Linked DNA regions of Homo sapiens. The protein of the gene in region 2 purifies or fractionates together with the protein of the main gene of each other region. This does not show direct contact. Each region holds a gene or a part of one and is shown on either strand. Other genes may lie near its edges.

The links.
Region 1: the proteins of RAD51B (region 2) and SATB2 purify together in Homo sapiens (affinity purification with mass spectrometry; one large-scale study listed by BioGRID and IntAct). This does not show direct contact.
Region 3: the proteins of RAD51B (region 2) and MTR purify together in Homo sapiens (affinity purification with mass spectrometry; one large-scale study listed by BioGRID and IntAct). This does not show direct contact.

What each region holds. Positions count from the first base shown.
Region 1 is NC_000002.12:199,325,320-199,328,974, forward strand, and holds part of SATB2 (DNA-binding protein SATB2), read right to left. Parts: intron 3,592-3,655; coding exon 3,379-3,591; intron 1-3,378. UniProt on the Homo sapiens protein: Binds to DNA, at nuclear matrix- or scaffold-associated regions. Thought to recognize the sugar-phosphate structure of double-stranded DNA.
Region 2 is NC_000014.9:67,864,699-67,868,353, forward strand, and holds part of RAD51B (DNA repair protein RAD51 homolog 2), read left to right. Parts: intron 1-89; exon of another isoform or gene 90-187; intron 188-304; coding exon 305-441; intron 442-3,655. UniProt on the Homo sapiens protein: Involved in the homologous recombination repair (HRR) pathway of double-stranded DNA breaks arising during DNA replication or induced by DNA-damaging agents. May promote the assembly of presynaptic RAD51 nucleoprotein filaments.
Region 3 is NC_000001.11:236,798,223-236,801,877, reverse strand, and holds part of MTR (methionine synthase), read right to left. Parts: intron 1-3,655. UniProt on the Homo sapiens protein: Catalyzes the transfer of a methyl group from methylcob(III)alamin (MeCbl) to homocysteine, yielding enzyme-bound cob(I)alamin and methionine in the cytosol. MeCbl is an active form of cobalamin (vitamin B12) used as a cofactor for methionine biosynthesis.

The DNA.
Region 1 (3,655 bases), on a different chromosome or scaffold from region 2:
AACTGAAATAAAAGAGGATCTTAACCTAGGACACCCAGCAGCCAGTGAAGGAACCATGATCTGAACGCAAGTCTTTCAGGCTCAAAAACATGGGCTCAGGACACTGCACTACACACTGCCTCCAAAATCTCCAATTTATGCCAGGTGCTGTTGTAAGAATTTTCTTGCTATGTTGGGACTTTCCCATTAAAAATTCAATTATCTGTAATTTTTTAAAATAAACTATTTGTTCTGCTCAAAATTTCTAGTTAACCCACAGTGCTTTCCCTGTTAAGAGAACGTTTTAGCATAGCATGTCTGCCCTTTCTCAATTCAGTTTTCTTAATTTGCCTCACTGACTATCTCATCCTACCTGATTGGTCAAGCCTTCTCTCCAACCATGAGGGCTAAGACGAAACCCCTCAGCCATGTGCCCTTACACAAGTTACTGAATCCATCTAAACCTCAGTTCCCTCATCTGTAAAATGGGCATAATACCATAAAATGGTGACAACTGAATTCATGCAAAATGTTCACAACACCTAATACACAGTAAGCGTTTTAACAAATGATCATTCTTATCTTAGTATTGTTTTGTCATTATTAAGTACACCATGGAATGCTGGCCAGCTGAAGAAATAAAAAGAGACTGGAGGTATAATTTCAAATTTCAAATTTCTTCAATTTGTTTTTCAGCTACTAATAAAGTATAGATGGGGTCTGGAAAATAATCTCCCTGCATCAATGTCAAGCTGCTTGTGTGCACTAAATTGCTGACTCCAACTAAAAGGCTGAGTCAGTGAGTACTCCTCTAATACTTGTTCTCACAATAAAATCTGTACTGTACTACGATCTTTACTGTTGAGATATGACTGTAAAGAATTTTAAGTCAGTAATCATGAAATGTTTTAAAAGACTTTAATAAACTCTCCTTTCTCAATCTTTACCCAAGAGAAAAAGACAATTCTAGAGAATGTACAAATGCAATGCCATGACCGTATTCTCAAAAACATGTTTAAATATTTATTTTCAAAAATATCAAAACTGTGATATTAAATAAGAGATTTCCCTGCTACACCTATCCCTAAAGGGCATCTGTATGAATTTTCTAGATGGCATTCTGGTCAAAATAAGCAAAATACTGACCCTAACTGTGGGGCCTTGTAAGTCAGTCTGGCACTGAAAGCTATTAGGTCTTTGAAAAGGTGCCTACGATATATAATCTTGTTAGGAAAATAGTACAAAAGAGCTGAAAACAAATACACAGACCTGTGTTAATTTCTAACAAGCAGAAGTAACTTTCTAAGAAGAGCTGCCTTGTCAAATGGCCATGAAGTATGCCTGGGCTCTTCTATAATGGTTTAATGGGCTTCAAAAGTGGCAAAAATATTGATGAATTTAGCAGAAGTAAATATTAGTGCACATTAACAACTTGCCCAACTTACTAGCTCAGTATGTATGTCCCCAGATTTTTTTTTAAGTAAACAAAAATGCTTGGTTATACTCATCCAAAGTAAGCAGTCAAGAGACTTATTTTTGGTTCAAACAGTAACTAAAACTCATAATTCACTAAAGACTGAAGTGTAAGTAACACAATTTGGCAGTGCATGATAGAAAGTAATCTTCAATTAAAAGTTTATTGCAGAGTACAAAAATATAAAAAGAGTTAAAATGTGTGAAAAAATGGATATACTTGAAAAAGCTCAAATATTTCTACTAGGATACAATTCTGCTTCTATGCTTAATCAGTTCCTTAGAATTTATCAGAAAACGCAAAACCAAAGCTATAATATCTAAGCAAAACAACCTTTGGTTTTGAACCGCCCATTTTTCAGCTTTGTATAAATGTATATCCATTAGGTCGGGCACGGTGGCTCATGCCTGTAATCCCAGCACTTTGCAAGGCCGAGGTGGGCAGATTACTTGAGGTCAGGAGTTCGAGACCAGCATGGACAACATGGTGAAACCCAACCTCTACTAAAAATACAAAAAATTACCCTGGTGTGGTGGCATGTGCCTGTAATCCCAGCTACTCGGGAGGCCGAGGCAGGAGAATCACTTGAACCTGAGAAGCAGAGGCTGCAGTAAGCCATGATCACACCACTGCACTCCAGCCTGGGCAACAAAGTGAGACTCCTTCTCAAAAACAAACAAAAAAAATTTATACCTGTTAAATACTGGTTTTGAGAATTAGCACTCAGACAGAACCTGCAACTATCATAGCAACAGTGAACGGACTGGCCTTATCATAAATCTATCGAGTAGTAAAAGTTTAGGGGAAATAGGGGATAGGCCAGAAATGAGTGGGCTTGGATGTGAACTAGAAATGACCCCTGACTGCCTTGAGACCTTGACCCTTGAGTTAGGAGCTTTGAAGCACACATTACTAGATGTATACATTTGCATGAGGGCCTAAGAAAAGAATACTTTTCAAGTGTGTGGAGAGGAAGAATGGAAGTCACCAAATTCTGTGGGGAGATCATCCTAGGATGGAAAATAATTAAGGCCTACCTTTCCACCATCATTTTCTAAAGGATCATTGAGTGACATCTCAGTCATTCTGATCTGGACACTGCATATGCATGCTTCCACTGCAAGTGTTCCTCCATTTTGTCTTTTTCAGATTACATAAAACAGAGCTTCAACTACCCTCTGCCCCCTGCCCTCAGCCACCTCTACCCCATCCAGCCCAACCAAATAAACATACAATTTGAGGGAAAGCAGTGTGCTTGCTATGCAAACTCAGCTTCAACACAAATGCCCTAACTCCTAACTGAGCAGCTATGTATAAACATCCTAGAGCCCGCCCCTGTGCCCACTCCTACCTTCCTACCCCTCACCTACCACGTATGGAAGAATGGGACTTCCTAAAGGGACAGAAATATAGTATGGGATCATATATGGTCAGAAGTTCATATCCTCTGACCAACATGTTCAGCGGATTAAGAAATCATAGAATTGGCCATGGACGGTGGCTCACGCCTGTAATCCCAGCACTTTGGGAGACCAAGGCAAGCGGATCACCTGAGGTCAGGAGTTCGAGAAGAGCCTGGCCAACATGGTGAAACCCCATCCCTACAAAAAATACAAAAATTAGCAGGGCATGGTGGTTGGTGCCTCTAATGCCAGCTACTTGGGAGGCTGAGACAGGAGAATTCCTTGAACCCAGGAGGCGGAGGCTGCAGTGAGCCGAGATCATGCTACTGCACTCCAGCCTGTGTGACAAAGCAAGACTCCATCTCAAAAAAATTAAAATAAAATAAAATAAAATAAGAAAAGAAAAAAAGGAAAGAAATCCTTGAATTATGTCTCTCAATGTTTGAGGGAAAACACAGTAACTAGTGAAGGCAAGATGTTTCCAAGACAAAGAGTGAAAAATACGGAAAGCAAGTTTCTCACCTGAGGGGTTCGGGAGGAGCTGGGACTGCTGGAGGCCGAGGAGACCATGCTCACATTGGGATTCATGCTCCGCTCCCTCTCATCCTGGTAGATGCGATCTCGCTCCACTTCTGGCAGATTGAGGAAATTCTGCATGGCCCTCAGGTTTACTAGAAGAGACTGAGAGGCTGTCCGAGGGTCTTCTTCCTTACGCAGAATCTCAGACAACAATCCCTGATTAAATGGGGGAAAAAAACAGACCAAGTCACATTTGCAGGTATATGTGTGTGGTTTCTGT
Region 2 (3,655 bases):
TGTTTCAGCCTTTCTCAACTAGAAGTTTCTCATCTGAACTACAAAATACAGTGGATGATTTGAGTGACTATTTTCTCAATTCCTCCAAGGATGGTACATAACTAGTGCCAATTCAGATGCAGAGGGGAGAAGTTAATTCATTCCATACAATGGATGTCTTGGGCTTAATTCTCTCCTGGGAACCCAGGTTAGTTGGACTGCATATATGGCAAAGTCTTAAAAGGATTTTGCTTTGACTGGCTTGTGATGTTTATCTAAAAAACTTTTTTTTTTTTTTTTTTTTTTTTTTTTTTTTTTTTTTTAGATTACAGGTCCACCAGGTTGTGGAAAAACTCAGTTTTGTATAATGATGAGCATTTTGGCTACATTACCCACCAACATGGGAGGATTAGAAGGAGCTGTGGTGTACATTGACACAGAGTCTGCATTTAGTGCTGAAAGGTATGAGATTTTATTTTCTATTATAATGTTTTACTTTTGTAACTTATATACAGCATGAAACATTTACACATAGGTTAACATTTACCACCCCTCCCCCTTGCCTTTTTTTTTTTTTTGAGATGGAGTCTTGCTCTGTTGCCGGGCTGGAGTGCAGTGGCACGATCTGGGCTCATGGCAATCTCCACCTCTTGGGTTCAAGCGATTCTCCTGCCTCAGCCTCCCGAGTAGCTGAGACTACAGGTATGCACCACCACACCTGGCTAATTATTCTATTTTTAGTAGAGACAGGGTTTCACCATGTTGGCCAAGCTGGTATTGAACTTCTGGCCTCAAGTGATCTGCCCACCTTGGCCTCCCAAAGTGCTGGGATTATAGGCGTGAGCCACTGTGCCTGGCTTTTTTTTTTTTTTTTTTTTTGAGATGGAGTCTCTCTCTGTCGCCCAGGTTGGAGTTCAGTGGCAGGATCTCAGCTCACTGCAACCTCCGCCTCCCGGGTTCAAGCGATTCTCCTGTCTCAGCCTCCTGAGTAGCTGGGATTACAGGCGCCCTACCACCAGGCCTAGCTAATTTTTGTATTTTTAGTAGAGACAGTGTTTCACCTTATTGGCCAGACTGCTCTTGAACTCCTGACCTTGTGATCCGCCTGCCTTGGCCTCCCAAAGTGCCGGGATTACAGGTGTGAGCCACTGCGCCTGGCCTAAATTGGTCTTTTTATAAATGTATCCCAGTAGTAAATGAATAAGGAATGATAGAATATCACCAAATTACAAACTCTGACAATCTAATGGATCTAGGCATTTAACATCACAAAAAGATGACGAGTCACTGGGGTACTTTCTGATGGAAGAACAATCAAATTTGAATGTGATCAAGGCTTCAGATCCAGCCACCAATTTACAACCTAGCTAGAGAAGAGAGGAACACATCAAACTGCTCTAGAAAATGCAATTAGCAGAATCCAAACTGTGGGAAATAACAGAACAAACAACTTGGTTTCTGTAACAAATAAATTGTAAGATTAAAAAATAGTTGGAAGGGGAACCTTTGGATTAAAACAGATTTAAAAGCCTTATTGATCAATTGCTGTGTGATTAACTTATTTGGATCTTGACTTAAATAAATGGTTAAAAAAAAGAACAGAAGAATAAACATTGAGACTACTGGAAATTTGAACATGAAAATATATTTGAGATTAAAGCTGGTAAAGACTGGTTCACTCAAATTGTCCAAGTACTCTTTAAAATGCCAATGACTAGCCTTCGACTAACAAGCCAAGTAGGTATTAAATAGCCAGTTATGTCATAAATAGCTAATGTTCAAATAGCTCTTACAAAGGTCCTGGGGAATTTGGGTAAAGAATTCAAAGATTAAGATTATTTTTATAACAGCAGTTCAGTTCACTGTAATGGATTTCTGCTTTCTTTGCACCACATACAAAACAGAGTTTAGGATGTCTTCTTAAGGAGGAAACTGTTGCATGTTATTTTATTACCAGTATTACAGTTCAGAGCAGTGTAAAAACCTTATCAATGAATTGGGTGATATCAGCATACATACAGAAGACTAGCAGGTGACTTGTCTGCATTTTCCAAATGAATTTGTGGAGAGTCTTATGTTTTTTGTCTTTGCATAGAGCCTTAATTATTTACTTTTTGAATCCCCCATATTTACTTATTTCTCCTTCATATCTTTTTCTGCCAATGTGCATGTTGGTATTTACATCAGAGGCAGGTTGGAAAATGAAGAGGTAATATTTTAGCTCCTTTGTTGGAATTACGTTGCATAGTTCACAAGGAGCTCTTATGAAGGTCATTTGAGAATAGGGGTTGAACTTTATATTGTATTTGGTTTTTTATTCCATTCTCCACAAGGCTTAAAATGAGTGATCATCTGGCTCACACATGGAATGGATTTTGAGGTCTGGTGATAGGGCCAAGTAGAATAAAAAATATGAATGCTCTCCGATATATATGCCAGATTTGGCATTCTTATACTACCTTCTAGTTTGTCATGGTGGGTCATAGAATGGAACTGGCCCTGTAGTGTCTGATCACATTTCATTCATTCTGTTACAGGACAGCTTAACCCCTATTTGGAATTATCAGGAAAGGTTGGCCAATCGGTTAGGAAAGCTTACTGCTGCAGATAACTGAGTATCCAAAGAACAGTAGCTTAAACAAAAAGAGGTTTATTTCTCTCATATAACAAGACCTGAGTAGGTGGTTGCTGGCACTGGGTCACTCAGGTCTCAGTGATGACAGAGAGACCTAGGGCATGCACATTTTCAGACATCGGATTCATTCTGTGCTCAAGTCAGTGTGAAGAAAAAGGGCCAGCTATATCTTTTATCAGGAAAGTGTACTTTTATTCATAATATCTGCCTCCTCCCATCTGTGGATTTCCTTTTTGTTGCCTGTAGTCCTCTTGTAGATTTCTCACTGAGTCACCTCTATATGTAAAAAGAGGCTGGGAAAGTGAGGGGAGAAGATCGTCGTAACAATCATGATGAGTTGTCTGGTTAATATTGCTGCCTGAATAAAACTGGGGCTCTCATAGCGAGGAAGAAGTGGAAATGGATATTGGATTGGTAATTAACAGTTTCTGTCCCAGCCCCAGCTGTTTCTGGACTTAGAGAAGAGGTAAGGCAGGGAAATATGAGACGCAAAAAGGACTATGTTGTAGCTCTGTATGTGTTCACATTGTCTCCACTTTGTGCTTGCAAAGCTAGCCGGCTAACCAGCACAAATGAGAAAGTGTTTAAAGGATTAATATGATGAAGGATTAAAGGATTCACATATATAGAATTTAGGGTACGTGAGAAAAAGTTGAAAATAATTTCTTCCTATAAATATCTAGATATCTTTTTACTAAGAAGGAGAGAGAAATCAAAGGAGGAATAAATACAAACTACTTAGGTTTAAAATGTATTAAAGAGGGAGGAGCCAAGATGGCCGAATAGGAACAGCTCTGGTCTACAGCTCCCAGCATGAGCGACGCAGAAGATGGGTGATTTCTGCATTTCCATCTGAGGTACCGGGTTCATCTCACTAGGGAGTGCCAAACAGTGGGCGCAGGTCAGTGGGTGCCCGCACCACATGCAAGCCGAAGCAGGGCGAGGCATTGCCTCACTCGGGAAGCGCAAGGGGTCAGGGAGTTCCCTTTCCGAGTCAAAGAAAGGGGTGACAGACGGCACCTGGAAAATCGGGTCACTCCC
Region 3 (3,655 bases), on a different chromosome or scaffold from region 2:
ACCACTACCAGATTTATCTTCCTATACAACAATTTTAAACCAGTTGCTTCCCCTGCTCAAACACCTTCAACAACTCCCTATAGCATATCAGACTGAATACATGTTACTCAAAACAAACCATAATGACGCCAACCCATTCCTTCTGTGCTAAGAGGCGAGAAAAGCTCAAGTCAAATGGGGCTGGTTCTAAGCTATCTGAGCTCCTTGGAACTCATGCCTAGCAACACTAAGGTCAGTACTTGGCAAATATTTCTTTAATTGAAATGACAAAAAAGTGAGGGAAGATGAGAAAGAAGAGGCAAAGATAATTTAAAACCCAAACCAGTAATGTAAGAATATTTGTAAGCTGGTATTGGGTGCAAACTTACAACCCTGCCTCGTCTTACTGTCCAGAGTCTCAAGTATACAATATGAGAACTGGGGCTAAATGGTGGTCACAGAACTATTTTGAGTGACTTTCTCCAAGTGGGCTTCAGGAAGGTGGCTCTAGTAACCTAAAAGAAAAATTTGCAATATCCAATATCTAGTTTCTGGGCACTATGTTTCTTTCAGGGTGTACTATTCCTTTCCAAAGCCACCTCACTTGCTAATTGTGTTTACTGAACTTGCAGGTGAGATAAAACACTTCCTGATAAAGGAACGAAGTTAAGCTCCAATGATCTGTACAAAAGTACTTCAAGAACCAAAGAAAATCACTTCTTGGGAAATGTGGAGAAAAGGTAGGGCTTAATGAAGCATGTATAATAGAAAGACTGGTAGGCATCAGGCAGTGGGCGCCATTTCAAGCTATAGTCGACACGGTAAATTCACATGTAGTGTTAATTTAGGCACTCCATGATGTGACTATCCTATCAGCCAATAAGCACTCAGAATTTGATAGGCTTAAGCTAATAGTAGCAGGGTGTGAAAACCCAAGAAATCTGGGTTTTAGCCCCAGCTCCCCTTAGTAGCTATGGGATTTTAGACAAGTCCTCTCCATGCTTCAGCAAGATGAGGAAACATCAGCCCTGCCTTCATCATCAGAACTGTGATACTAAAATGAGACCATGTGTTAAGAACTGGACCTCTTAAGTCACACAAGTCATGAAATGAGACATTGGTGTTTGATGTATAGTAAACATCTGATAAATATTAGCTACTCTTATTATGTTGGTATTATAGCACAGCAAGGACTGAAGCTCTAAAGATTGTGTTCTATATATTACAAAGCTCAGTGGGCTGTGAAAAATCATGTAAAGCCTGAAGCTCTCAGTTGGTCATGTTGGGGCAGGAATGGCATATTTGCAGGTTGGGAAATGTCTTCTAACAGTCGAGTGAAAGAAGAAAATACTCAGTGAAAGCTGTTAAATGTAGATAATTTCACAGGAGGAATGAGAAGACTAAGAACTAAAGACTCTAACCTACATGCCCAGCTGAATCGCTTTCTTCTCAAAAGGATGTAGCTGCAATTCTCCCTGAAATGACATCACGTGAACTTAAGTGGGTGACTGAATCATAAGCCTAGTGTGAGCATGAGGTGTGGCAGTGGGGAAATAGGTCATGCACATGAAATTTCATATTTAAAAGGTATTCAAACTTCCTAGGGAGAAAAAGGCAATCTTTTCCACAGACAGTGAAGTATGTCCTTTGGCATCGGCAAAATGATTAATCAATATCAATCAATATCCTATTATTTACATGTCCTTCTTCCTATCTCCTCCACTGAGCGAGTGCACACAAGTTGAGCAAATCTAACCACTCAGAGTGCCTCCACCCCTCATTTTCATAAAAAGTCTTAGTACTTTTCCATGGGGCCCTTACTGTATTCCCTTTTCAATCCAGAAATAATAAGCTTTGTTTTTGGACTTTAAGACAGTTCACTATTTACCACAAAACAACCCAGCCCCACACATGCAAATTCTGGCATCTTGTTTGTTGAGCCACCGTATAGGCAAGAGATCAAAAGCTGTTTAAAAACATCTGCTTTGGTTTTTCAGAAACCTGACAAACTTATTGTATAATTTATTGGGAAGAACTTTATGACTTCGAATGAAAAGGAACTTCTTAAGACTCAAAAAGACCAACCTCTTAATTTAAAAAAAAAAAACACAATGAATTTGATTACATAAAAACCAAGGATTTCTGTTAAACGAAAGTCACCATAGACAAAAATAATAGACGATGGGTTGGGGGAGATTCTTCAATGTCTAAAGCTAATTTGTTTTCTTATTGATTTGTGTTAGTTCCTTGTACATTCCAGAATGTAATATACAATGTGAATTAAAAATACCTATAGACTAGAGTTTACAACAAAATGTATAAATATATGGATATATGTGAAAAAGGCGGTCTATGGAAACAAGAGAATTGTGAATAGAAAATACAGATAAAAAGGAATATATAATAAAACACAGGAATTTTGCAGCCTGAATAAAAAACTCCTATGCAACTGAGGCCCTTAAAAATCCATTACTTGGGCTGGGTGTGGTGGTTCACACTTGTAATCCCAACACTTTGGGAGACCAAAGTAGGTGGATCACTGAGTCCACGAGTTCGAAAACAGCCTGGGCAACACAGTGGCCTCATCTCTACAAAAAAAAAAAACAAAAATTAGCCAAGCCTGGTAGTATGCACCTGTAGTCCCAGCTACTAGTAAGGCTGAGGCAAGAAAACTGCTTGAGCCTGGGAAGTCGAGGCTGCAGTGAACCGTGATCACGCCACTGCCCTCAGCTTGGGCAACAGAGTGAGACTGTCTCAAGAAAAAGGGGGAAAAAAAAAAACATAGTTTCCTCAACTACTTGCTTATTTTTCCTTTAGAGGATAATGTAAGATTTCCCATTTAGAGAAACTAAGAAGTCTTCCTTCAGAAAATCTGTTGGTATTAAGTGTTCACTATTTTTAGCCTTCTGTATTCCTCCAGTTTTTCCAGTAGGAGGTCATTTTTCACTGGGCTTTAATTACCATTCTAATTCACCAGTTTCCAATTACTATCAGAACTTGCTCAAAAGAATAAGTCACCTTGACAATTCCTTCCCCTGGCAGAGTGGGGATCTACTGAAATGTCACTCTTCCATGAAGAACAACAAAATTGTATTTATCTGTATTCAGTTCATTAGGTCTAGAACATTCTGTATACTTAACTACTGACTAGTCAAGTTCTAAATAAAGCAGATTCTTTCTGATTATCTTTCACAGTAAATATAAGAATATAGTTTTGCAGTTCCTTTACTTAGCTGACTAGTTATAACACTATTTCAGAAATATTTTTATGTTTAATGTATATATGTAAATAACCGCAGTGCAGAGGAGAGTCCCAAGGAACATCCTTGGCTAGTGAGCCTAAGAGATCACACAGTATTTTCTCCAGTTTTGAGTGGATTTAGCCAATATATTTTGTGGGGTTTTTTTCCGTGCCCTTAACATCTTATTTTCTAGCTAACAATATTCTGATTCACAGCAAGTGTTCCAAAGAATAAACATAGGTATAAGTGGTTAAAGCCCTAGTCAGATTTGGAGGGGGGTAGACCAGCTAGTACCACCTTTAAGAACTAGCCTAAAGAATGACAAGATGAAGGCCTAAACAAATAAATTCCTAATATGTGCATGTAAGTTATAAATTGCAGTGTCAAGAACACATCTGCTCTGAAGGTAAAATGACCCCAAATAGATCTGACTT